Homo sapiens: one gene and its partners. The protein of the gene in region 1 interacts with the protein of each later gene in a pairwise test. Each region holds a gene or a part of one and is shown in the gene's direction. Other genes may lie near its edges. The genes, in order: DEUP1, CEP57, EXOC5 and ZNF148.

Region 1 (7,032 bases):
GCTATTAAGTGGCAGAGGCCATGTTTCAATCTAGGCAATCTGGCTCCAGTATCCATACTCTTACCCTAAGGTAAAATCTATGAGATAATGCACTTAAAGTGCTTAAAATAGGATCTAGCTCAGAGGAAGTATCTAGTAAATATTGGCTCAGTAGTTATTTATTGCACCCACATTTTTTCACTGAGCACCTAACATGTGCCAGGAACTCTGCTGGAGCTAGAAATACAAGGATGAGTAAGTCCTGGGCACTGTCCTTAAAGAGCTTGTGGTTCTTTACTCTCCTACAAAGAGTATGATTCTCTCCTCCCTCTAGTACAATCCAGTAATGGCCTTCTTTCTGTGAATTTATCATAGCTATTCTCCACCTCTCTGGTCTTTAGGTTTGAGGATCAGGCAGAATATTTAATGCTATAAAATCTAAACAATTAAAAGTTAAATAAACCTGGGTGTGGCTTTGAATTATCAATTAGTGCACTGCATAGTGCTTGACACACAGTAAATTAAATACTTAGAGAATGAGTTAATATTAAGGCTAAATTTTCCCATAAATATATAGGGTCATAAATTCAGTTGTTTGTACAAATTTAACAAACATTTGTTGAGTATCTAGGAGAACTATAGCTATTCTGCTAATTTCTATAGGAAACACAATAATATGAAAGACAGGTACTGTCTGCCAAAGAGTTGACTGTCAGAGAACTAACAGAGGTTAAGTAGAGAAAAGGTGTTATGAATCAGTGATCATTTTTCATATATTTTGAACACTTTAATGCCATATAATCCCACAAAATTTATTTTGCTGACTTAAAAATATAACTTTGAAAAACTCTTTTTTACTGGTGTCCCCAGTGAATGATAAAAGATTGGTTAAAGCCACCTAAAGTATAGTTACATGATTCTTAACCTCATAGATTTAGATAAAGTAATAAAACTTTGAGTAATATAAAGAATCTACTGACTTTGCACAGTTTTGACATGGTGGGAGAGAGTATGAGGCACAGAATTCTTTATAGACCCTTGGAGGCCACTAAATACCAGAATGCTGTGCAAAAAAAAGGTAACAAATGAATTTTATATAAATAGCTTCCAAGTGGCCGGGCATGGTGGCTCACACCTGTAATTCCAGCACTTTGGGAGGCTGAGGCAGGCAGATCACCAGGTCAGGAGTTTGAGACCAGCCTGACCAACATGGTGAAACCCCGTCTCTACTAAAAATACAAAAATTAGCTGGGCGCGGTGGCAGGCGCCTGTAATCCCAGCTACTCAGGAGGCTGAGGCAGGAGAATTGCTTGAACTCGGGAGGCGGAGGTTGCAGTGAGCCGAGATTGCGCCATGGCACTCCAGCCTGGGCGACAGAGCAAGACTCTGTCTCAGGAAAAAAAAAAAAAAAGCTTCCAAGTGTTTCTGAAGAGCATTTTAATTCTTTTGTAATAAAACTAACAAGAGCTATGTATTATGAATCTTGCAAGTATTTTATTTCTTTTCCTTTTTTCCAGTCTAGAACTGTTTTAGCCATTTATTTTGTGATAACATTCACATTTTCAATAAACCAAAAGTCATTTGGAGTTCAGGTAAATTAGTTTCTTCTTTCATTAAGAAAGAAGTTTTGCAGTATAGTATGTTGTGTTAACATCTAAATATTGTGAAAATAATAAAAATAGTTTACTCCTTTTTCACAGTAGTATATTCATTTTTTTATATTTTAAAAGTTCCATTTTGGCCAGGTGCCGTGGCTCACGCCTGTAATCCCAGCACTTTGGGAGGCCAAGGTGGGCGGATCACGAGGTCAGGAGTTTGAGACCATCCTGGCCAATATGGTGAAACCCTGTCTCTACTAAAAATACAAAAATTAGCCAGGCATGGTGGTGCTCACCTGTAGTCCCAGCTACTCGGGAGGCTGAGGCAGGAGAATCACTTGAACCCGGGAGGTGGAGGTTGCAGTGAACCAAGATTGTGCCACTGCACTCCAGCCTGGGTGACAAAGCAAGACTCCATCTCAAAAAAAAAAAAAAAAAAAAAGTTCCATTTTAAGTGGAACAGGTTAAACTATGCCAAAGGGATGCGATCAGCAAAATCCATACTGGGACAAACTATAGACTGACCGTGTTATTTCATCAAATAAATTGGAAGGTAAAAACTTGGAGACAGAAGAGATTTAAAGGAGATTTGTAATATTGTCCTCCGGGTTAGGATACTTGTGCTCGTGTCTCTTAGTTTCCGCCTTGTTCTCGTTCCTGTGACTCTTTTTTAAAAAAATCTGTTAAATGATGAGGTTCGATCATGTGATTTCTAAGGTCATATCCAACTCTGAAACTCTGAATATGCTGGTAATATGAATAGAATCAGATGAAGGAAGGGTTGGTGGCATAAAGCCTGATGGTGATCACATTTGCCTCTGGACATGTGTACTTTCCATGTTAGGTCACCCCACTCTAAGTGCCATCCCCTAAAACACAGCTTTTTCTGATCTCACTCTAGGTGTCATCCCCTAAAACCCAGATTTTTCCAATCTCTCTGTAGGTGTCAACCCCTAAAACTCAGGTTTTTCCAAATGTGAACCACCTTCCACACCTTCCAGGACCCTTCCCACAGAGGTTGCAGAGCACAATAGTTCACAGGTCCTGGAATTAGACTGCCTTTCACAAGAAATGTGATGTGAAAAGTTATGCACCTTAATTTTCTAATCTGCTAAATACAGTAGTCTGCAAAATAGAGAGACATTGTGGGGATTAAATGAGATGATGCATGTAAACTACTTAGAACACACAAAAAGAGAGGCTTTAAAAAGATATATGAGCCAGTCACAATGAATGGATCATGTTTAGATACTAATTCAATTAAACTTAAACAACATTTATTATATTTTTGAGACAAGCTTAAATTTGAATACTGCCTAGATACTTGATGATATTAAGGAATTCTTAATCTTTACAGACATTGTAATAACATTCTGGCTACATTTAAAAAAAAGAGAGAGCCTTGTTCTTTTAAAGATATATACTGAAATGTTTAAAGGTGAAATGAAAAAAAAAATCCATTTTAAAAAAGTGCCCTGGAGAAAATTCATGTTTCTTTTGTGGCTAGCCTCTACTTAACTCTCCAGCCTTATTTCTCAGAGCAGCTAACTCCTAGCTACCCTAAACTCCTTTTAGTTCACTGAGTGTGCCATGCTTTCACTCACTGAGCTCTTTGCCTGGGATCCCTCCTCCTTCTCCTCCCTCCTCTTCCTCCTCCTCCTCCCTCCTCTTCCTCCTCCTCTTCCTCCTCCTCCGAGCCCTCCTCCTCCTCCTTCTTTCTCCTCCTCCTCCTCTGAGCCCTCCTCCTCCTCCTTCTACTTCTTTCTCCTCCTCCTCCTCCTTCTTCTTCTCTTCCTCCTTCTTTTTTTTTTTTTTTTTTGAGACAGGATCCTGCTGTGTCATTCAGGCTGGAATACAGTGGTGCAATCAGGGCCTACTGCAGCCTAGACCTCCTAGGCTTAAGGGATCCTCCCACCCCAGTGCCCCTTCCACCCGACTAACTGAGACTGAATGCACATGCCACCACACCCGGCTAATGTTTTTACTTTTCATAGAGCATCTATATGTTCTATTTTTTTCTATGCCTTTTTATTTTTTTTATTTTTATTTTTTGAGACAGGGTTTTGAGACAGGGTCTTGCTCTGTCACCCAGGCTGGAGTGCAGTGGCATGATCTCAGCCCACTATACTGCAACCTCTGCCCCCTGGGTTCCAGGCATCCTTCCCACCTCAGCTTCCCACACAAGCCACCACGCCCGGCTAGAGCATCTCTAATTGGCATTCATTCATCCTTCAGTTTTGGGTCTGATGACCCTTCCTCTGGGAATCCTATCCTGTCATCCCTAGGCTGGGTTAAACACACTGCCACTACATACTGCTGACACTAATTGCTACACTGTGTTGTAATCGTCTATTTTTCTGTTTCCCCAATGGACTATGATTTTTTTTTAGACGGATGATTATGTACTTTAAGTCTCAAGAATTAGAAACAGTAATGGTTTCTAGAAAGATGCTAAGAGGCTAGACAAAGACAGCAGTTGTAGGAATGGAGACAGAGGCAAGACTTAAAAGAGGTTGAAATAGAATGGACAGAATTCATTGCCTGACCAGGTTTGGGAGGACAAGGGTGGAGAGGAGTCAGAGACAATCCAGAGGTTTGTAACATGGAAGCTTAGCCAAGATTCAGAAAATAAGAGGCTTAAGTAAGGGAAGTGATGAGTTTTCATGAAGACATTGTTTGAAGTTTACTGTAATGTGATTCTGAGAAACAAATGTTTAGTTACAAACAGTACAGCCTATTTTAGTTTTAAAAAAGCACTGAATTTAAAGCCAAGAGTCCTAGATTCCAGTCCTAGCTTTGCCGATTATTAGCTTTATGACTTTGAGCAAATCATGTAACCATTTTAAAGCCAATTTTTTTCTCCATGAAAATGCTTGATAATACTTTCTTTACCTTCCTCTCAAAGTGGTTATCAAAGTAGTATCAGTCATAGGTGATGATTTGCATACAACAGAAAATAGAAGTGAGAAATGAAATGTTGGAATTGGAAGGAAAAAAGGTAATGAGTCATTATTATATGTATCTGTTTTTAATTTAGCATTGATCAGAAAAGGAGGGTGAAGTGGGCCCTGACAAAGTTTCAGAATAGAAGGACTGAACATGGCCAGTAAAATTTTAAGCTACTCTATAAATAAAAGGATTCAATAATATTTCCAGTCTCTATCTGCTGCAGATAAGAAGCCAACTCCAACAGGTGGAAGAGTACCATAACTCTGAGCAGGAAAGAATGAGGAATGAAATCTCTGACCTAACAGAAGAGCTTCATCAGAAGGAGATCACTATAGCAACTGTCACAAAGAAAGCTGCCCTTCTGGAAAAACAGTTAAAAATGGAATTAGAAATAAAAGAAAAAATGTTAGCAAAACAAAAGGTATGCAAGCAGGCAGAATAGCACTTGTCTAGGGCACATTCTTGCTCAGTGCCAATAGTAGCCTTCATTATTGACTAATGAAAACATTACATTTCTTGGTATTATTTCTGAGACTAGCTTCACAGAAATGCTTTGTGGTGTTACATAAAACCTTTCAGAGATAACACAAAGTGTCACCAACAAAAAGGACTAGGGAAATGACAGTGCAAGACAATTTCATTAAATCTCATCTTTCCATTTTCTTGTAACCTATATTCTGATCACCTCCCACAGTACACTCTAATCAAATATTTCTTCCTGAGTATGTTTTTCTGTATTTCTCTTCCATTAACATTTTTATCTTTAAAAAAAAGTCTCTATTCCAGCTCTTCTTCAACACTTCCTACCCCTCCCCCACACTTCATGTATTTCTTTCAGGCTTTTTACAAATGGATGTTGAAACATGAAAATTAGTTCATATTTACTGAACATGCAGTCAATGCACAGCATGGTACGTGAGGAAAAACAGCAATTGTAACATTCTTCTGTTAAAATACTACAAGTAACTTCTACATCCTTCCTTTCCTTCCTGCCTATTTATTTTTTAAATTCCCTCCATCCCTTACTCATGATCAAATGGATGGCCTACTATTGAGAGCACAGGGTTTATCTGCTTTTTTACCCCAAATCTAAAGGTTTTGAGAGCATCATTTAATAATTTTCTAGGCATATGAGGGTCACTTCACAAATAACATGACTAAAATCGTGAATTATGAAAACAGAAAAGATTTAGCCTTTGCCCAGTTGTAAGCCTTAAACCGTGATTTATTGTTGCAGTACACAGGAAAACAGCACAGATGGGATAATCTCTTTGGTTGTACCTGTATAGGCAGGGATATTTTACAGGTGTTAACAGTGATCTGGCTAGTTGGATTATGAATAATTTTTATTTTCACCTTTATATTTTTGTACGTTTTCTAGGTTTTGTCAATGAGCATAAATTGGTAATTTACAAAATTAAATCTTTTTAAGGCACGTGTTTTATACAGAAATGAGTCCTAGAGAAGTAAAAGGACAGATACCATATCCAAGTCCTGTCAAGTAGAATAAATCAGGGAAAGATAAAATAAATTGAGAGACAAAATGAAGTAGTCACTAAAAAAGATGGAATTTTGGCAGAAATATCAGAACAAAATTAAACATGAAAGTTATGTATTGCCTATTGTAAAAATTAATCAGGTGTTGAATAAATTTAATGGACAGTTACTCAAACATGCTTTTAACATGTGCTTTTTCTGGTGACAATTTGCATACAATAGAAAATAGAAACCAGAAATGGAATTTTGGGATTGTAGGACAAAACTAAATGAATCATTATTGAAAGTATATGCTTGTAGTTTAGCATTGATCAGAAAAAGACGTAAAGTGGTGCCTGCCAAAGACAGGAGAACTAAATAAGAATACCTGAATGTTATTGGTCGTACCGAAGAAGTGTTTCCCTTCATTACACTTAGAAAATATTTGTATTCACAAGACAAAATTTTAATAGAATTATGAGTTTTTATTATGAATTTTACATTTGCCTTTTATCTGCTAATTTCAGGTCTCAGATATGAAATATAAAGCTGTCAGAACTGAAAACACACATCTAAAAGGAATGATGGGAGATTTAGACCCCGGAGAATACATGGTAATATGCTGACATCATTCAATAAATTGAACAAAGAGATTACTGAATTGGTCACGATTAACCTAGACATCATTTATTGAGCACTTGCTGTGTGTTAGACATGAAGGAGTTGGGTGGTAAATTATCTTGTGCTTCAGTTGAGGTTACTTTTATCCTCAGGCTAGAACATTGGAATGTCTGGTTTTCTCCCTTGTTCTTTGGTTGGATTGGGCTCAATTCTGATCATTTCCCTCAAATATGCCAAGCATGCTATTTCCTTGCTTTTCTTCTTGCTGTTGCCTTTGAAATCCTACATCCTATGTGGCCTGATTCAAGTGCCAATCTTCCCCTCAACGAAGCCACCCCTGAAACCCCAGTCAGAATGAATGCCACATTTAGTTCGTATTTTGTTCTGACTTGTTTTGTTGCTTGTCACT
Region 2 (4,728 bases), 2.4 Mb from region 1:
ACATCTAGGTAGAGTAAAAATATGATACTAAAGTCTTACGGGACCACTGTTGTATATGTGGTCTGTTGTTTACTACATCATCATCTGGCACCTGACATCACATTCATTTTAGCTAAACTTAACTGATAAGACATGAGTGTTTGAAGAGCAAGATTCATCTGTAGACTTTACATATACAATACTCTTTTGGGGAAAATAAGAATATAAAGAATTAACCTTGAAATTAAGAACTCTTGCATTTCCCTCTAGTGCCTTTCTTGAACTTTTAAATTCATATTTTTAATTAAAAATTTCTTGATCTAGGCTAGGCATGGTGGCTCACACCTGTAATCCCAGCACTTTGGGAGGCTGAAGTGGGCATATCACATCCTGGCTAACAGGGTGAAAACCTGTCTGTACTAAAAATACAAAAAATTGGCCAGGCATGGTGGCAGGCGCCTGTAGTCCCAGCTACTCGGGAGGCTGAGGCAGGAGAATGGCGTGAACCCGGGAGGCAGAGCTTGCTGTGAGCCGAGATCATGTCACTGCACTCCAGCCTGGGCGACAGAGCAAGACTCCGTCTCAAAAAAAAAAAAAAAATTTATTGCTCTGTTCAAAAAATGGAGTCATTTTTTAAACACATGGAGCAGTAACCCATAATGAGGTATAATAGACCTAACCATGAAACACAGAAAACTTAACCATGTTCTACTTCTGCTTTGTATATAGTGATCACCAGCAGCTTGCAAAACTTATCCAGGAGTCGCCAACCGTTGAACTGAAAGACAAGTTGGAGTGTGAATTGGAGGCATTAGTGGGAAGGATGGAAGCAAAAGCCAACCAAATAACTAAAGTTCGAAAATACCAAGCCCAGGTAACTCAGTTTTCCTTCACTCAAGTTTCTAATGATTAAGAAAAAAAAAACACTTTAATTCAAATATTAAATGATGACACTAAGTGTATCATAGATAAATATCTACAGGAGATACTTCTTTACTGAAGACATTTGTTCATTGAGAATTGGTAAGTGGATTAAGAAAGAAGACACTTTTAGTCACTTAGCATATTCATCTAAGAAACATCTTTCAAATACTGAATATATTTAATATTCTTTATGAATAAGCTTTAACTTCTTTGATGAATTTAAATTGGAGTTTATCCAAGTAAGTTTTTTTAAAAGCACCTGCGAAATTCTGTTTCCAAAGGAATAAGTCATACATTAAATATGTGAAATATATTTATGTTGCTAATCATTTTATATCAGCCAACAATGTAGTACTACCAGATGCAGTGGTGACATCACACTCAAGGGTTTTCAACCAGAGAGAAACATGATTCATATATTTAAGAGATTACTGTAGTGACTAGGGGTAGGGTAATGGGATCAAGGCAGAGAGGCTGAGAGATCAGCTATAGATGTATCAGAGGTGGTCAGCAAGACAGTAGTTGGGTTTGGGCAGAGGTAAACAGATTTGAGGTATGTTTTGGAAGTAAAAAAAATATTGGGGTTACTTGCTGCTGGGTATCATGTAGAAGGAGAGGGAGTTAGGATGGTGATTCCACTGACTAAAATGGAGAAAGCTGAGAAGTTCAGAGAGCAGAACAGTTTTGTTGACTGTTGATTGGTAGCCATATGATAGACACACAGTGCCAAGTGCTCTGAGTATATCTTCTCATTTAATTTTCACAAAAGGCTTCTGAGGTGGGTATATTCTCATATTATAGATGAGGTAGATGCTAAGCCACATTTTCTGGGAAGTATGCATATATCCTCAGTGAAATTAAATAACTTGCCCAAGTACCAGCTTACTGGGAAATGGCAGAGCTGGGATGAAACTAGCCTTTTCAACTCTAAAACTTTGGCTGTTTTTTCAAAGTTCATGTATGAAAAAGAAATACAAGCAAATTATTCCTGTAGGAGTAAGGAGTAATGGTCTAATTTGTTGCTTATACTAATTAGACTTATTCTATTGGAACACCAACATGCCAGCATCAGTTTGGCTAAAGTAAAAATAAAGCTCCCGTATTTAAAATTATTCTAAAAATAATGGAACAAAAATAAAATTCTTTTCATAGTATTAATACATTACCAATTACATCTGTTCATCCATCTGGAAATTGCTTCTTTGCCTCCTCAGACTAGTTTCTAGAATATCTTTCTCCTCTTCTCCCATTTGTGAAAATCCTTCCCATTCTTCTTTTCTCTGTGTCTGATTTTTTGCCTCCTTCATGAGTCTTTCCTTCAACTCCCCTTGTTTCTCACTCGCCCTGTTCTGTACTTTGGCAATATTGCCTTAATTTAGGACAACCAGAATTTGTTTACTCATGTCTACTTGTTTGTGTATTGTTTTATATATATATAAGCATATATTTATTTATATTAATATTTAAGTGTTAAATGACTAGTGCAGTAGATTTTGAAGTCTTTAAAAGAAAGCCTAGAATGTATTATTTTTCAGTTAGCATGAGAGTTAACCAAAAAAAGGTACTCTTGTACTTTTTGTTGTCAGAAAAAAAATATTTTCATTAAATTCTCCTTTTCCTTCCTGCCTTGGTTATTTGGTATAGCTGGAGAAACAGAAGTTAGAGAAGCAGAAGAAGGAATTAAAAGCTACCAAAAAGACTCTTGATGAAGAAAGAAACAGCAGCAGCCGTTCTGGAATCACAGGGACCACAAATAAGAAAGATTTTATGAAACTGAGACCTGGAGAAAAAAGGAGAAAAAATCTTCAGTTATTGAAGGACATGCAAAGCATACAGAATTCATTACAAAGCAGTAGTTTGTGTTGGGATTACTGACTCATAACCAGGTCAGAAATTTTATTCAGATAATCTGTACCTCATCAATCAGATGATGACAATTTACTTCCCAGGTCTCATACTCACTTATGTTGGAATTAATTAATAGCAGGTGTTAAAGGACCCAGGCTTCATTACACAGGCTTTTCATGTATGCAGGATGACTCAATGTTAAAGCATTTAAATGGAAACCAGGGGAGTTTTAAAGCCCGAGAAACCACACATAATCTTTTGTTGAGATGAGTTTGCTGTACTGACGCTGCACTTTGTAAACAGATTACCAGTTTTTTACTTGTGGGTGTGATTTTTTAAAATAGTTCTTTATATATAATTAAAATTAGGTTTAAATTTTCAAAATATGAGACTATGCTATAGGCAGTGCTTGCTTGAAAAGTCTCATTTTTAAATCTCCCTGGCATGAGGTGCCCACTTCCCCTTTCCAAAGCAACCATTAAACATACTTTGTTTCTACTATTGGTGGAGTTTTTCTATATTTAAAAATACATATATATTTCAGAGGATTTTTATTTTGCTTTTTGGCATTTCAGACTTTGATCAGTGTTAAGTGCACTTGTATTGCTTTTTAATCTGTTAATTTTTTAAAGACCCAAGCAGTCATTTTGAGTTATATCTATAAAAATTATAAAAGGATTTTTGAAAGTATAAACAAATTGTCAGTGAAATAAATGAGATTTTGGAATAAAGTGAGAATGGGAGAAGGGATATGTTGTGAGCATATACCTTCACAGTTCTTAATACCTGTTTTGTAATCATGATATTCAGTCAAGGCATTATGGTTTTTAATCTTGAAACTTAGAGAACCCTTTGAATATTTGCTTTTACTGGTGTACAGTATGAGTGGAATATAAACTGTACACATAATTATCATGTTGATATAAATCATAATTTCAACTAGATCAAGACATGTTAACCTTTTATAAATTTAAAGTCAATAAAGCACCTTTTTAAAGGAAACACTGCAACTTTCCTTAACAGCCTGTTAATAAAGGCTTTGTGACAAGCTCTCAAAAAATGCATTTCTAAATAGGAGGACATCAATGTATTGATGAAGAGAAAAAACTAGTACTTAGTTGCCACACTCATGCTTACATAGAAAGAGAGCCCAAGAATATTAGATTTCCTCATGATACAAGATACTACAGTAACAGGCTTTAATTTAGGATCCTTAAGATTTTGGGGTATTATTTGTGACTCTCCTGAAATTGTAAACTTGTGCTTCTGTGTCCAGTTTTCTAATGAGTAGGTTCGTAGCTTGATTGAATTAATAATTGTGAGCCCATAGACACAAGGGAAGTGAGAAACAGTGCTCTGGTGACATGATAAATATATGTGTCAACCACCATTTCAGCTATTAAAAACTCCTGTTATCTCCTTGTTTGAATTTCAGGTCATTAAATTGTATAACCATCATTTGAATTGTAGTGGCTCTGAGTCCTAATTAGGAGAATGGTGATTGAATGATGCTAAATCCCACCCCTTTTCTCAGCTAGGATTCAAACTGAACTACTCCAGCTTTTTGTACTGTCAGGTGAGAAGTGAAAAAATACTGCTTCCATTTTCTTATCTGCAAGTTTACAGTAGAGGAATGTGTCATCCATCCACTTACGTTGTAACAGAGCTTTATTGCAATTCATTTCAAATAAGGTTATGTTTACAGACTTGTGGTAGACATGTGAATTGTTCATTCCAATATAATGTGAATTGCAGTGGTAGTAGCGGTATACACAGTGCTATGGGGGCACAGAGGAAGGTGGGGATGTCAGAGAAGGCAGTCGTGAATCAGATAACTTCCCAAAGGAAGAGATGATGCCTAAACTCTAGAAAATAGGAATTAGTCACAAGGGAGAACAGTTGTTCCAGGTGCACAAGACAGACTGAACCAAAGTGGGGAGGCAGGAATCTGCAGATTACATGAGGCAATTGTGAACA
Region 3 (7,032 bases), on another chromosome or scaffold:
TGGCTACTCTGCTAGGCACATTGCTGGGTCTTATCATTTGTCATTAATATATCATCATATAATATATTATTTGATCATCTTTTTCTTTTGAATAATAATGATGGAACTTTATTTTTAAAAATACCAACCATGGGAATGGGGAGGGAGACAAATAATCAAGTGTATTTAAAATGCCAGCAAATAAAAGTAAGAACAGTAAGTCAGTTTTGGGACTGGCTGGGTTGTTAGTGTCTTATGCAGAGCAGTTGATTCTTTAAAAAGAGAATTGATTTTCAATGTGAATTTCCTAAATGAGAACCAGCTACCTACCTACATTAAGTTTTATCACCTGGCATGCTTCCTATCAGAATTCTCTCCTCTGATTTTGTCTTTTTTCTTTTTACAATAACCTTTTAACTTTATAATGGTTTTGGATTTACAGAAAAGTTGCAAAGATAGTACAGATGGTTCTCGTATCTCCTGCACCCAGTTTCCCATTTGGTTAGCATCTTACATTGCCATAGGATGTTTATCACAACTAACAAACCTCATGGTTGGTTTTTGTCTTTCAGATTTTCAGAAGTTAAATCCAAAATTGCAAGTAAGTGATGTATTTATTTTACCTTTTTTTTAATAAGTAAAAAAACTACTTGTGTAAAAATAAAACAGCAAAAGGAGAAAAAGCAGGAACAATGTCATCTTCCTACCCTAGTAGGCTACTGCATAGAAGATCCCTGAGTTTGATTTCTCTTCCCTCAAAACAACCATTACCAGTTTTTTTGGATATTCTTGCAGAATAATCTATGGATATACAAGCATAAGACATAAATTCTATATATGTGTGTGTGTACATATGTATGTGTATGTATAGATATTTATATGTACTTCTATCCTCATTTATTTTTAAATAATTGCTACCATACTATATAAATAGCTTTATACCTTGCATTTTTAATTTAATAGTGCATTTTGGAAATCCTGTGCTTTCCATACATCTATCTCTGAATAAGATTCTCTCTTTTTTTTTTTAAGATTATATAAGCATTTCAGTATCTATTTAACTCCTTACATGATTAGTTTGGTTCTTGCCAGTCTTGGATTTTAGTTTAGGTTAGATCATTCTAGGTTTTTGAAAAGACCACTAAATTTGCAGGTTCTGTGGTAGCTGGGGTCACTATTTAGAGTAGGCCACTGCATAGAAGATTCAAAGATTCATCTATATTCCCAAAAAGTCTTAGAATAAGGATGACACAGCTAGTTAGACTTCCTGGGAATATTTTTGATCACAATAGATTGGTCTGAAGTTCAGGTGTTCGTTAAGAACCATACTAGCCTCAAGAATATAGTGAATAGGGCCGGACATGGTGGTTCGCACCTGTAATCCCAGCACTTTGGGAGGCCGAGGCGGGTGGATCACCTGAGGTCAGGAGTTCGAGACCAGCTTGGCCAACATAGTGAAACCCCGTCTCTATTAAAAATACAAAAATTAGCTGGGTGTGGTAATGGGTGTCTATAATCCTAGCTACTCAGGAGGCTGAGGCAGGAGAATCGCTTGAACCCAGCAGGTGGAGGTTGCAGTGAGCCGAGATCGCGCCACTGCACTTTGACTGGGTGACACAGAGAAACTCTGTCTCGAAAAAAAAAAAAAAAAGAAAATGAAAAAAATATAAATACTGCATATTATCAGGATGAGATTTGGTGTTCAGTCATCAGTCCACTATTGTTCTAGGTAGAGGCATCAGAACTCTAGTAAAGAGTTCTGTAGTCCTCTTCACCCTTTCCATGTGTAGGATTTTTCATGTGTGTTGCTATCAGAAATAGCATCTGGAGGATTTTTTCCAGTCAGCTACTGGTTTAAGTAACAATGGCATATGACAGTCAGACCCTGGAAAGCTCAGTAATTTTGCCAGTTTGGAAGTTTTTTGTCTTGAAAATATAGATTTATATGCCACAGTATATTACAGGGGCTGGGTTCACGGCCTATAATCTCATTTGTTTTTGTAATTCCTTCAAAAGAAAGCTATATTCATAGTCATTATATTTGTAAATAATGTAGATACTCTTAAATAACGTGGATGCCTTGTATGCCTCAGTGTAGCTGAATGACTTTATTTTTAGGTAAATACCATGATTTAGAATGCCAGCTGATTCAGGAGTTTACCAGTGCTCAAAGAAGAGGTGAAATCTCCAGAATGAGAGAAGTAGCAGCAGTTTTACTTCATTTTAAGGTAAATAGTAGGAATTAAAAATGAATAGTGTTCAAGGCTATGGAAATTACGTAAGTTCTATATATTATAGTCTCTGATTTCCCCCATTCATTATGTAACTATCACAGTGATAATTTTCACTGTTTTGAGTAATTTGTACATTTGATACTCTGTAAATGGTATTGAATGTTATATATTTAATATTTAAGGTTTTATATTCAATAATATTAATATTGAATTAAAATTAATTGATCAATTAAATATTGATGAATTTTTATACTTTGATAAAGAAAATCATATTGTCTGCCTTTTTGCTTCCACATATTATAATATAGGTGAAAAGAAAGAAAACGTGACCGTAAATATCTGTAGGATATAGGAACCAGAGAGTAGATGGAACATGACTAGTAAGAGACTTAAATCCAGGGGACCTCAGGAGGTAATACAAAAGAATTTTGTATTACGGAATTGTTTACCTAGAATTTGAACTCGGGAGAGAATCCCTGTGTAGGAGTATATTTCTGCAAAGAAAGTGCTTAAAGAAATGGTTCTTCCTTCAATCTGTTTCTTTGATTTGTATCAGATTAGGGAAGGGGAAGCTATTTGTTGGACTTTTCATTTTGGTAAAATCTGAATGAGTATTGAGAATGGCTCTTGAGACAGTAGTGCACTTTATATTGCTTTCCTTACTGGTTTTTATGTATGATTTATTAATAGGCAAAAATCTCATTATGGTGAGCTTAATGACAAATCAGTTTGTTTTAAACACATTTTATTAAAATACATTTAGTTTAAAAAGTAAATTTCCAAACTACCAGCTGAATACAACTGTCCAGATTCTTGCAAGGAAAACCAAATGCTAGAGAAGGCCAGGCGCAATGGCTCACTCCTGTAATCCTAGTATTTTGGGAGGCCGAGGCGGGTGGATCAGTTTAGCTCAGGAGTTCGAGATCAGCTTAGGCAACATGGTGAGACCCTGTCTCTACAGAAAATACAAAAATTAGCCGGAGGGGAGGCATGTGCCTGTAGTCCCAGCTACTCGGGAGGCTACAGCAGGAGGATCGCATGAGCCTGGGAGGCAGAGGTTGTAGTTAGCCAAGATGACACCATTGCATTCCAGCCTGGGTGACAGGAGTGAAATCCTGTCTCAAAAAAAAAAAAAGAAATATATATATACACATATATATATATATACACACACACACACACACACACACACACGTATATATACACACTTTAATATATATAAATATATTTATATGTATATAAAACACATACATATATATATGTAAAACCTTTTCCCAAGACCTTGACTCTCTGTGTATGTGTGTGTTTGTGTGTATGTGTGTGGGTGGGTGTGAGTGGGTGTGTTTTGGAGTTGAAGGAGATGGCTAGATGATCATAGGACAAAAATTACTCTAAAGAACTCAGTTACATACTTCATCTTTCTTGTTTTAGTCTAAAGTTCAACAAGGATATGTACCAACTGATAAATTTTATCATAGAAAGTGACTAGGGAGACGATACCTTTATCAAGTTACTGGTTTTCTGCAGTTAATTTTATTTAAGTCCAACAGGTGTTGCTATTGGCCATTTACTGGTAAATAGTCATAGCTTTATGACATATAACACTTCTTTTTTTGAAATAATAATTATTATAATTGAATCAGAATAATAACAATGTGTTTCTTCCTTGTAGGGTTATTCCCATTGTGTTGATGTTTATATAAAGCAGTGCCAGGAGGTAACATAACAGTACACTTTGTTGGATATTATTTTATGCTAATTGTTGTTTTAAAATCATGTAGAAATTATATGTTCACTGTATAAAATGTCTCTGCTGTTTAGGGTGCTTATTTGAGAAATGATATATTTGAAGACGCTGGAATACTCTGTCAAAGAGTGAACAAACAAGTTGGAGATATCTTCAGTAATCCAGAAACAGTCCTGGCTAAACTTATTCAAAATGTATTTGAAATCAAACTACAGGTAATTTTAAATAGTAACAAATTAAATAGTTCTTAAAGCAATATGTAATTTTTTCCCTATATTTTAAAAGTATTTTTAAAATTTAGTTTACTTATGTAATGACCTTAGAAATAGTAATCTAGTTAAGGAGAAAGGAATCCTCATGCTTTTTAAAAAATGTTTTGTATTCACCAAGAAGAAAGTGCTAATCAATAAGTATCATCAGAGAACATGCTTGAAATTTGTGTAGTATTCGTAGTAGTAGTATAATATATTGTGGTAAGATAGCCTTGAAGATTTTTCTTTTTTTTTGGTCCCTGCCTTCACCAATAGATGTCATTTGTGAAACTGAACAAGAATTACAAGAGCAGTCTGTAGAATTTTTAATAATATGGTACTAACCTGAAAAGGGAAAACACAGAAATTTAATTTACCCCCATATCACTGTACTTTCAGATAACATTTCCTAAGCTGTTTACAACTGGATTAAACAACATTCAATAAATGTTTGCTTTTTTTTTTTTTTAACACAATTCAGGAATTTTGATAGTATTGTCATTCTCTAGAAGTGGGGATGTAATGTACAGCATTTCACACATTTACTGTCTAAGAAACCCTGTTTTGGAGTAATGCCTATAGACATCTGAAGGAACACTAGTGTTACCTGGAACTCAGTTTGGGAGATGCTGCCTTAAGGAATTGACTCTATTGTTTGTACTCTCAGTTTTGTTTTTTTGATGCACCTCACAGAGCAGAATAGGCCAATTTAACAGAAAAGGTATTATTCCTAAGACTGATAAAGATCCTCTACAGGTAAATATGAGAAGTGGTAAAATGTAAAAACCTGTTTTAAAATATTTTATGATTGGTTTGTTTTCTGTAATTGCCTTTTTGATTGGATTGTAAGTCAGAAAGGTTCAAAACTGTGGAGTGAATTTTAAAAGAAAAATATCTTGAGAAGTTGTAGAATTTAATATTTACCTAATTAACAGAATGTTAACCTTTTTCTTTTAGAGTTTTGTGAAAGAGCAGTTAGAAGAATGTAGGAAGTCCGATGCAGAGCAATATCTCAAAAATCTCTATGATCTGTATACAAGGTAAATTTTTAATGATTAGAAAATAATAGATAACAGATTTTTTAAATTTTTTTGATAAAAACAAGGAAGTATTCAGGTATTTTTGAATAAGTTTGTCACCAGTTTACCTTTTAGCATTAAATGCTTAGCTGTATAGACTAGTTATATTGTACAAGACTGTATTGTACAACATTCTTAATACATTAACGTCAGGAATTGGATGTTATGCTTTATTTTTTCTCTAAGCATTAGTGTAATTACATTTATCTGCAGTCAAAACTTTAGAAACTGCAAAAGGAAGTGATGTAATCTTAACAAATGACAATTTCAGCTCTAAATCTTCTGTAGGAATTTGTCTTGTGCTTTTGTAAATGTCAGTGTTACTCTTAGAGATTGTCTCAGAAGCTTCATATGGAGTCTTGTGGGGTTTTTTTTTTCCTTGACTTTTCCCAACCCTATTACTCTTCTTCAGTGTCTTCATTTTGGGAGAAGGTTTTTCCAAAGTTACCGTAATGAGGAAGTCCATCTCAACAACAACACTGTTATGACCCTATCTTCAGCAATGGGAAATAGAAAATTAGAGGGAAAGTCCACAAGGACAAAACAAAAGAGGGTGAACAGACAGTAGATCTTTCAGTACTCTGTTTTGGGTCCCATGTGATGAATGGCATTAGACATACTTGAGGCCAATCTGCCACTGTCGCCATTTCTGGACTAGTTAATTGCCTCACAAGTTCTTTTCCTAGGAATTTATAACAGTTCTCAAAACCGTAAAGTTGTTCGTAATATTTCACTGTATTTATATGTAACCCTGTAGAGTTGATCTCTGCATCATAAGTACTCTCCCAGAGTTTAAGAAATGGTGGCTTAACATAAGTCATGAAAGTCACGTTGTAAAAATTTGTATTCCTTAATATTGTTACTATACCTAAAATGTATATTAATCTTTTTCTCCCCCTTTTTCATGAAAAGAACCACCAATCTTTCCAGCAAGCTGATGGAGTTTAATTTAGGTACTGATAAACAGACTTTCTTGTCTAAGCTTATCAAATCCATTTTCATTTCCTATTTGGAGAACTATATTGAGGTGGAGACTGGATATTTGAAAAGCAGAAGTGCTATGATCCTACAGCGCTATTATGATTCGAAAAACCATCAAAAGAGATCCATTGGCACAGGAGGGTGAGTATTTTTGTTAAATACTTCTGTTAAAACTGAAGACATTAATAACTTCATTATATTTGGGCAAATTATCAAATGTTGACTATCATTAGAATTTTCTGTGAAGAGTTCTTTTAATCCAGATTGTTATATTATTGATCAAATCTTGTTCTTAAACCACATGTTGAAATGACCTAACATAACATGATTGAAATGTAAGCCGGGCGTGGTAACTCACTCCTGTAATCGCAGCACTTTGGGAGGCCGAGATGGGCTGATCACCTGAGGTCTGGAGTTCGAGACCAGCCTGGCCAACGTGGTGAAACCCCATCTCTACTAAAAACACAAAAATTAGCTGGGCGTGGTGGCAGACACCTGTAATCCCAGCCATTAAGGAGGCTGAAGCAGGAGAATCACTTGAACCTGGGAGACGGAGGTTGCAGTGAGCCAAGATTACGCCACTGCACTCCAGCCTGGGCGACACAGCAAGACTCCGTGTCAAAAAAAAAAAAAAAAGTAAAGTAGATATTTGTCAATTAAAAAATAATGTTTTAAAACTATCGAGCAGAACACTAGTAATATAAAAAGTTCCATAGTTTCTTTCATTTTTTTTTTTCTCGATAGAATAAGTTCCAGGTTAT
Region 4 (7,920 bases), on another chromosome or scaffold:
ATCCTTAAAATAGACCAATGTCATCAGCCTTATAAAATTGTTGAGGCAAAGATTATGCTCAGAAATAAAATATCTGAAAAATGGCAGTTTTTTTTTGCAGGTTAATTTTTTTTCCTAGTGCCATCTACCTATTGCATACCCTTTTTATTCCCCATGGAAAACATTCTGAAAGGTATTTTCCCACCTAAATCACCTCTCTCAACATGTTCTTTTTTTTTTTTTTTTGTCCTTGTATAGTTTCTCTTCTTTTCCTCACCCCAATCCACTTGTAGAAACTGATGTCTTTTCTCTATTGAATTTTATTTTTAGGAAATTTGGTTCAGTGTTACCTTTAGGTTATTTTAAATAGTAATAATAGCAACTACAATATCAACACCACATAGAACATTTAACTATGTGTCAGTTATTGTTCTAACTGCTTTACATTGCCAGGTGTGGTGGTTCATGCCTGTAATCCCAGTATTTAGGGAGGCCGAGCTGGGAGGCTCGCTTTGAGGCCAGGACTTTGAGATCAGCCTGGGCAATACTGCCAGATCCTATTGCTACAAAAATACAAAAATCAGCCAGGCATGGTGGTGCACACTTGTAGTCCCAGGTACTCAGGAGGCTGAGGTGGGAGGATCACTTGAGCCTGGGAGTTTGAGGCTGCAGTGAACTATGATTGTACCACTGCCTTCCAGCCTGGGCAACAGAGACCTTGTCTCTAAAATAAATAAATAAATAAACAAACACTAAACTACTCTATGTTAATATTTAATAGCCATAATATCCCTAAAAAGAAGGTACTATTCTTAGCTCCATTTGCTAGATGGGGCACTTGACAGCACAGAGAGGTTAAGTAACTTAAGATTGCAAAGCCAGTAAGTGGTAGAGTCAGGATTCAAACCCTGGCTTCAGCTGCAGAATCTGTGGACTTAATCACCAGACTAACCTCTAGGCACTAGTAGATATTATCCTCATATTATTTATTTTTTCCTTACCCACAAATATCATCCTGGCCCAAGACCTCATTTTCATTCATTCTTATGTATCTTGGCCTTTCAGTGGTGTCTTCCCTTGTGCCCCTCTAAACCATAGTTATCTCACAACTGATGAACTTTAGTGCAACCTAGTACCTTCTTTAGATGTTTCTAAGAGGTGCAGGGTTTTTTGTCTCAAACTCAAGAAATTACCTCCACTCTATATCCTCAGCAGGAGACAGTAGACTATTCATTAGTTTTAGAATATATCAGCTATCTGGGATGCCCTTTGCCCTCCAGCGGAGGGCTAGGTAAGAGAGAATAAACAAAAAAGCTAAGAAATTTCTGGCAAATAACCTTTCACCTAGGTCCCCAACCCTTCCATTTCCCCAGGCCTGAAGCATATCTGAAGCAGGAATTCAGGGGGTCCCAGGATGTCCCAGGAAAAGAACTCCTTTAGGAACAGGAAAAGCCATATTTTTCTGGGTACAGTAGGAGTGACGCAGTAGAGGCAGGTTCTTGTGGATTAATCTGTAGCAAAGCTATGAATTTAGAGTTTTGCAAAGAAAAGGACAAGTTTATCCTTAAGGTAGAACCAGCTTTGACGAATGGCTAGTGCTGCAGGGAGCCATAAGGATAGAGAAGACAGAACTTCCATCTAGTCTTGAGTCTGAGAATACTAGAAAAAAGGAAGGAAAGAGATTACTAGAGGAGGGTCTGAAGACCTGGTGAAGCAGGAAAGAGATGGAAGTACATTCTTCTCCTGGAAGGAGTGCAAAGACCAAGCCTCAGAACTAATTCCAGAGCCAGAAGAGAGGAAAGAGGCCTTGGGAGTCCCTGAGAATCTCACCTGTCAGAACAGCGGTGCCAGCCTCTATGGGTTAGGTCACATCAGAGAAGATATACCGGGGGCTATGGACTTAATCTGGCCCACAGGCATGTTTTGTCTGACATGCTTTTGTGTTCTTAAAAAAAAACAGAATGAGTTGTCAACATTTAATATTTGTGAGGTTTCACCCCAAAACTCAGATTCCTGACTTCTCTTGATTTCCTAAATATTACATTCCCCCTTGGAAACCATCAGCTGGAAGTGTCTGTGCCCTTTAGATTTGCTTGAGCTGTGGACCTTTATGTTTAGGTTAAAACATCAATCTCAAAAGTTTACATGCTGTATGATTCCACTTAGATAACATTTTTGAAATGATGAAAGTATAGAGATGGAGAATAGTTTAGTGGTTACTAGAGGACAGGCATGGAGTTGGGTGAGCGGTTGCAGTGCGGAAGGGGATTTGTGAATACCAAAAGGTAGTATGAGGGAGTTCTTTTGTGGTGATGGAACAGTTCTATGTCTTCATTATAGGAGTGGTTACAAGGATCTGTAAGTGAGGTAAAGTTGCATTGAACCACACACACACACACACACACACACACACACACACAAAACAGAACACAGGTTAAGAAAATGGCAAGTAATAAGTTCTGAAGTCTATAGTAAACAGTAATGTACTGTTGTCGATTTCCTGGTGTGAAAGTTGTCACAATCAAAATGGAGTTACTAATGTTAAGAAACCCTGACAAACAGAGCTAGGGAAGGCTGCCTACGAAGAGAGGGTTCTTACATTTGTATACCTGATAACAAAAACTATCAAAAAAAGACTGCAAAACCCACAACCTTGCACAAAGGCCATCACAACCTTACATAAAAAAATACTTCTGCAAGGACATCTCCCCAGCAAATGCCTGTCCAACCTCGGACTGGCGTCACCCTTGTTATTGATCTTTGTAGTCAAGGATAATTATTTCAAAACAATTATGTAATCCTTTCCATTTTTTCCTTTAAACACCTTTGTCTTCCTTTACATCCCTGAATATGCGGTTAACTGTGATGTGTATATTTTCATTGCAATGCTCTATTCCCAAATAAACATTATTTTCTTTTAGAAAGCCTCTCTGTTATTTAGGTTGACACTGATTTTGATGTCTTACTAGAGCTTTGTAAGATGTCACCATTGGGGAAAGCATGGGACTCTGGACTATTTTTGCAACTTCTTGTGAGTCTATAATTATTTCAAAATAAAAAGTTAAAAAAAAAAAAAAGGAAAAGTAAGTAGGCTGAGTACCTACGGGTGGTGTTTAGGGAAGTGAGCAAGAGGAGCATGGAGAGCCAACCTGAAGCTGAGAAGTTTTTCCAGTTTAACTTATAAAGGACCTAAGCTTGCTCCTCACCATCGCTTTTGCTGTTACTATCCCTGTAGTGCTCTTCGTTCTGCCCATTTTAGACAGCTGTTTCTCTATCGCTTGTTAGGCTGCTGAGCAGAGAACTAGATCTATTCCTAATAGCAAACCAATCAATCCTAGCCCATTGGATGTAACCTCCAGGCCTTGAGCCCTTTTCAGTTATTAGTTTTCCCACTGCCTAATACTGAGAGTCGGCTTTCTTGCTGCCAGAGGTGTTTTTCATTATGACGTCTGAATTTGATGCCACTGCGGGTGCTAGAAGTTGCCAGAAGGCTGTCCTCCAGATAACTGTCCCTTGGCTCTAACTTGTGTCATTGTTTTGTTGCAATTAACATTCAGAATATGTGCGGTCATCTTATTAAAATTTATATTTTTTAATGGAGAAAGCACACAGAGAGAGTTGATTGTGGAGCTGTGGTTTACTCTTGCTCTTAGTTACCTGTGTCTAAATTAAGCTGAACCTCTGGGCCTTAGCTATTTCTAAACAGGCATCACGATTTACTAAGGTTAATGCCTGAGGGAACATTAACCTTGCAGACACTAATCTAATTCAGTGTCATCACAAGTGCATAATGCAGGAGTTTGGAATTTTGCCAAAAAGCACTATTCAAATGAACATTTAGTTGGCAAGGGGTGGGAAGGCGGGTGTGGAAAAGGGAAGGAGAACACCAGAAATGGCTCTATAGATATTTTCATGCCTTTTCTTTTCCCTCTCCCCTCAAAGGTTACGTTTAAGTATTGCAGAGAGGCGCTAAATGGAATCTTCATATTATTATGAAGAAATCCCAATGAACGCGTTTTATCCCACGGCAAGTTCCAGATGCTCACAATTACTCAACATTCACTGAGCATCTTTTATGTTATATGGCTGACCTTGTGCTAGGGTGTGTACACAAAGATGAGTAATTGTAAACGATGGCAGTATGCAGAAGCACCTCAGGGCGCCTAATGTTAGCTGACGAAGGCACCATTAAGGAGGTCACAGTTTGGCTAAAGGGCCCCCAAAGGATGAGACAACTGTGTAATCCTAGCTCTATAGAGATCATTACCAAGTCTTTGCCATACAAAGTTTGGGCTTCAGGTGAAATGAGAAGGGCAAGGTTCTGCCCAAGAGGGTCCAGGGCCGGATCTCTTGATCTGTGTCTATGCCCACACCCTGCATCTCAGCTTGCAGACACTAATAGGGTTTGCCAGTTTCAAGGGCGCAGGGCTACATCTTCCGGAAAAGGTGGCATTTGAAGGTGGTAAGAGGCCAACGACTGGAGGTGGCGGCGAAGGGCTAGGTAAGACAGAATAAATGAAAAAGCCAAGACATTTCTGGCAAATAACCTTTCACCTAGGTCCCCGACCCTTCCATTTCCCCAGGCCTGAAACGCTCCCGAATCCCCGAGTCCTCCACTTTCCAAGCGCTGGGCATTGGTTAAGGCTGTAGGAGCAGGGAGTCCCCCGCTCTAAGAGAGTTCCTCAGTTCCGATCTTTTTCAAACCGCTTTCCTCCCAGGCCCAGCCTGGGGGGCCTGCGGCTCGGGTCCAGCTTCCACGGCCACCCTGGGCTGGTGACACGCAGGCGCCGGAATCGAAGCCACGCTGTGTCTTTCCAGCCAGGTCTCTGCGCCAGACGAGGGCGGGCGCCGCGGAGCGCTTCCCGTGTGCGGGGCTTCCCACAATGCACCGGGCCGGCAGTGGCGGCGACCGCGGCGGCGCTCTAGCTGCGGCATGTCTGCGTCTCTACTGCTCTGGGAGGAGGAAGAGAAGGAGGAAGAGGAGGAGGAGGAGGAGGGGGAGGAAGAGGAGAAAGGCGCAGGGGTGGGAGCTGTTGCCGAAGCTGCCACAGCAAAAGTTCTCCCCCCTCCCCCCTTCCCCTCCTCTCAAGGCCCCTAGAAAGGTTGGAGCTGCCGCCGCCTGCAGTCGGTGACCGCGCGACTCGGCGCCCGCCCGCGGTAAAGCGCTCGGCCTGGCAGGCCCGGGCCCGGGGGAGGGCGGGGGAGGGGGAGGGGGCGGCGCGCGGGGGGAGCGCGCGGCGGTAACGGCCTGACCCCGGGGGGAGCGAGCCGTGGCGAGGCTGGGGGTGGCCAGGGGGCCAGCCGAGGCCGAGGGAAACGCTGGGGCTGGCTGGGGGACGTGAGGAAGCAGGGCGCGGAGGGTGGGTTGGGGGGTTGAGGAGGGATAATGACGGGGGTGGCGGAGGCGAGAAGGCGGCCTCCGAGGCTGGAGGCGGGTGTCAGAGGTAGGGGAGGAGGTGGGATGTTTGCACGGGGAGGCCGGAGGGTGCTGGGTGTGGGTGTGAAAAGGCTAGGGAGACACCAGGGCTCTGTCCACCGTGCCTGGTGCAGTGCTTTATGCACCGCAGGCCTCAGTCACTGTTGCTGCCGGAGTGTGCTCTTTGGGAGAAGGGAAGGGCAGGGGTTGGAGAAAAGGGAATGCTTGCAGGAAACGTAGTGGGAGTGCGAACAGGGCGAGGGGCCGGAGGAAAGATGCCGGAGAGGTGGAGGAATGCGGGGAGGTGGCTGTGGAGGAGTCTTGAGGATTCTGGGGGGTGTTCATTGTGCAGATACGTTAGGTATTTCATTATGGAAAGAACTGAAGCGTTTCTCAGGGAAGGAAAGAAGGGAGATAGGAGTTCCCGTGAATAGAAAGGATCGCGTTTGAAGCAAGAGGGAGTGCTAAATAGTAGAGAAGATGCAGGGAATGCATAATAGAATAGACAGATGTAGTATAATTAATAAATATTGGCCTAAGTACTGAAGAGTTATTCCAGATGGGCCGGGATGGCCTAGTTCCGAACCTGTGTGGGCTGTTCAGTAGATGACATCTGGTAAGTGTGGGTCTGGGCCGTGGTTGGGGTCACTGAGAATTAGATTTTAGTCTGTAGTTTGGTCTGTGACATTTTAGACGTGCACCAATGAGTATGAGAACCTCTGAAGCAGACCTTGAGAAAGGGTCTGGCCTGTGGGGATTCCTTAGGCTATGGAGCTTCGATTTTAGAAAATTTGAAGTATTAACACTTACCCGAGGTTGGGTAAATACTATCCTGGCAAACGCTGGAATGGAAATTAATTGACTTGGTGGTTTTCTTCACTGCCCAGTTTATCTGGTCCAGGAGAATTGGTGCCGTATTATTCAGCCTGGATTGCAGTACACAAGATTATAATTAATGGTCGGGGGGAAGACATGCTTGCTGGCTCTTCTTTAGATACTTCATTTGTAGCTCAAATTAGTTGGCTGGATTGGTTCCATAAATCTGTGGCTGGTGGGAGATCTTCTGCCATTCACAGTTCCTGAAGTGAACTGTGAGGGAGTTCTCCAGTGAGAGAATACTCTCATTCAGGCATGATGGCATTGAAGAAAACGTATCAGCCAGCAAAGTGTGGGCCTGCAGAATGGAGGAGCTAGAATATCTGTTTTGGTTTTAGGTTGCAAGGAGGTCAGGACTAGTTATCAGAAGGTCTAGGGGAACCTAGGAGACTGGACGACTCTAGAGCCAGGTTGGAGGGAGGATTAGCATCTCTATGTCAGGAAATGAACCAAGCTCTCTCTGGATTTGCTGAGCTCACACCAGACCAGATTTCCAAGAGGGAACTCTGGGCTAGAACCATACTCTTAAAAACTACCCGGATATTATTCACCTTTTATTAAGAAAAAACTATATACAGCTGGGCGCGGTGGCTCACACCTGTAATCCCAGCACTTTGGGAGGCCGAGGCGAGCGGATCACCTGAGGTCAGGAGTTTAAGATCAGCCTCGCCAACATGGTGAAACCCCATCACTATGTGAAACCCCACCATGCCAGGCTGGTGTCGAACTCCTGGCCTCAAGTGATCCGCCCGCCTTGGCCTCTCAAAGTGCTGGGATTACAGGTGTGAACCACCATGCCTGGCCAGGTCTTTTTTAAACATAGTATGCTGTACTCAATTTTATTGTCATCATGGCATGAGAAGGCTAGTCTTCCTTCCCTTTTCCCTCACCAGCACTGTATATTATCTGTTCTTTTAATTTTTGTAAGCAGAATGCACTTAAATATGTCATTATTGTCTTTCTACCCTTTTTAAAAAAATTTTTATTTATTTATTTTTTTGAGACGGAGTTTCACTCTTGTTGCCCAGACTGGAGTGCAATGGCGTGATCTCGGCCCACTGCAACCTCCACCTCCCGGGTTCAAGCAATTCTCCTGCCTCAACCTCCCAAGTAGCTGGGACTAAAGGTGCCTGCCGCCACCCCTGGCTAATTTTGTATTTTTAGTAGAGATGGAGTTTCTCCGTGTTGGTGAGGCTGGTCTCGAACTCCTGACCTCAAGTGATCCACCCGCCTTGGCCTCCAAAGTGCTGGGATTACAGGCGTGAGCCACTGTGCTCGGCCTCTACTCTTTTATTATAAAATTGTTCTGAGGGAACTTACAATGAAAAACAGCAGCCCCTGTCTCACCTGCCTATTGCAGTTCCACTTTACTGAGGCTGCTACTTTTAAGCATTAATTTTGTATTTCTTACCATGCTTTTTTCCATGTCTCCAAGTAATGGGCATATAATATTATTTCTTGATTTATCAAAATGACATTATCGGAGTCAGAAGATGTTTATGAATGTGTCATTGACATTATCCCCTTTCTCCTCCTTTCTGACCTTTGATATTTATTTTAGTTATTTTATTCAGTGTGTTTATATTTTTAAATAATATGCTTAAACCTTGATTTTAGAATCCAACAATCTTAGGCTGTATCTCTTGATT

The links.
Region 2: the proteins of DEUP1 (region 1) and CEP57 interact in binary tests that used the Homo sapiens proteins (3 or more experiments, as listed by UniProt).
Region 3: the proteins of DEUP1 (region 1) and EXOC5 interact in binary tests that used the Homo sapiens proteins (3 or more experiments, as listed by UniProt).
Region 4: the proteins of DEUP1 (region 1) and ZNF148 interact in binary tests that used the Homo sapiens proteins (3 or more experiments, as listed by UniProt).

The regions. Positions count from the first base shown.
Region 1 is NC_000011.10:93,389,710-93,396,741, forward strand, and holds part of DEUP1 (deuterosome assembly protein 1), read left to right. Parts: intron 1-4,733; coding exon of another isoform or gene 4,734-4,749; coding exon 4,750-4,947; intron 4,948-6,529; coding exon 6,530-6,616; intron 6,617-7,032. UniProt on the Homo sapiens protein: Key structural component of the deuterosome, a structure that promotes de novo centriole amplification in multiciliated cells.
Region 2 is NC_000011.10:95,828,479-95,833,206, forward strand, and holds the end of CEP57 (centrosomal protein of 57 kDa), read left to right. Parts: intron 1-708; coding exon 709-853; intron 854-2,547; coding exon 2,548-2,778; 3' UTR 2,779-4,215; downstream 4,216-4,728. UniProt on the Homo sapiens protein: Centrosomal protein which may be required for microtubule attachment to centrosomes. May act by forming ring-like structures around microtubules. Mediates nuclear translocation and mitogenic activity of the internalized growth factor FGF2, but that of FGF1.
Region 3 is NC_000014.9:57,230,886-57,237,917, reverse strand, and holds part of EXOC5 (exocyst complex component 5), read left to right. Parts: intron 1-551; coding exon 552-580; intron 581-2,097; coding exon 2,098-2,207; intron 2,208-3,885; coding exon 3,886-3,930; intron 3,931-4,034; coding exon 4,035-4,175; intron 4,176-5,168; coding exon 5,169-5,251; intron 5,252-6,202; coding exon 6,203-6,412; intron 6,413-7,032. UniProt on the Homo sapiens protein: Component of the exocyst complex involved in the docking of exocytic vesicles with fusion sites on the plasma membrane.
Region 4 is NC_000003.12:125,372,318-125,380,237, reverse strand, and holds the start of ZNF148 (zinc finger protein 148), read left to right. Parts: upstream 1-4,912; 5' UTR 4,913-5,136; intron 5,137-5,528; exon of another isoform or gene 5,529-6,011; intron 6,012-7,920. UniProt on the Homo sapiens protein: Involved in transcriptional regulation. Represses the transcription of a number of genes including gastrin, stromelysin and enolase. Binds to the G-rich box in the enhancer region of these genes.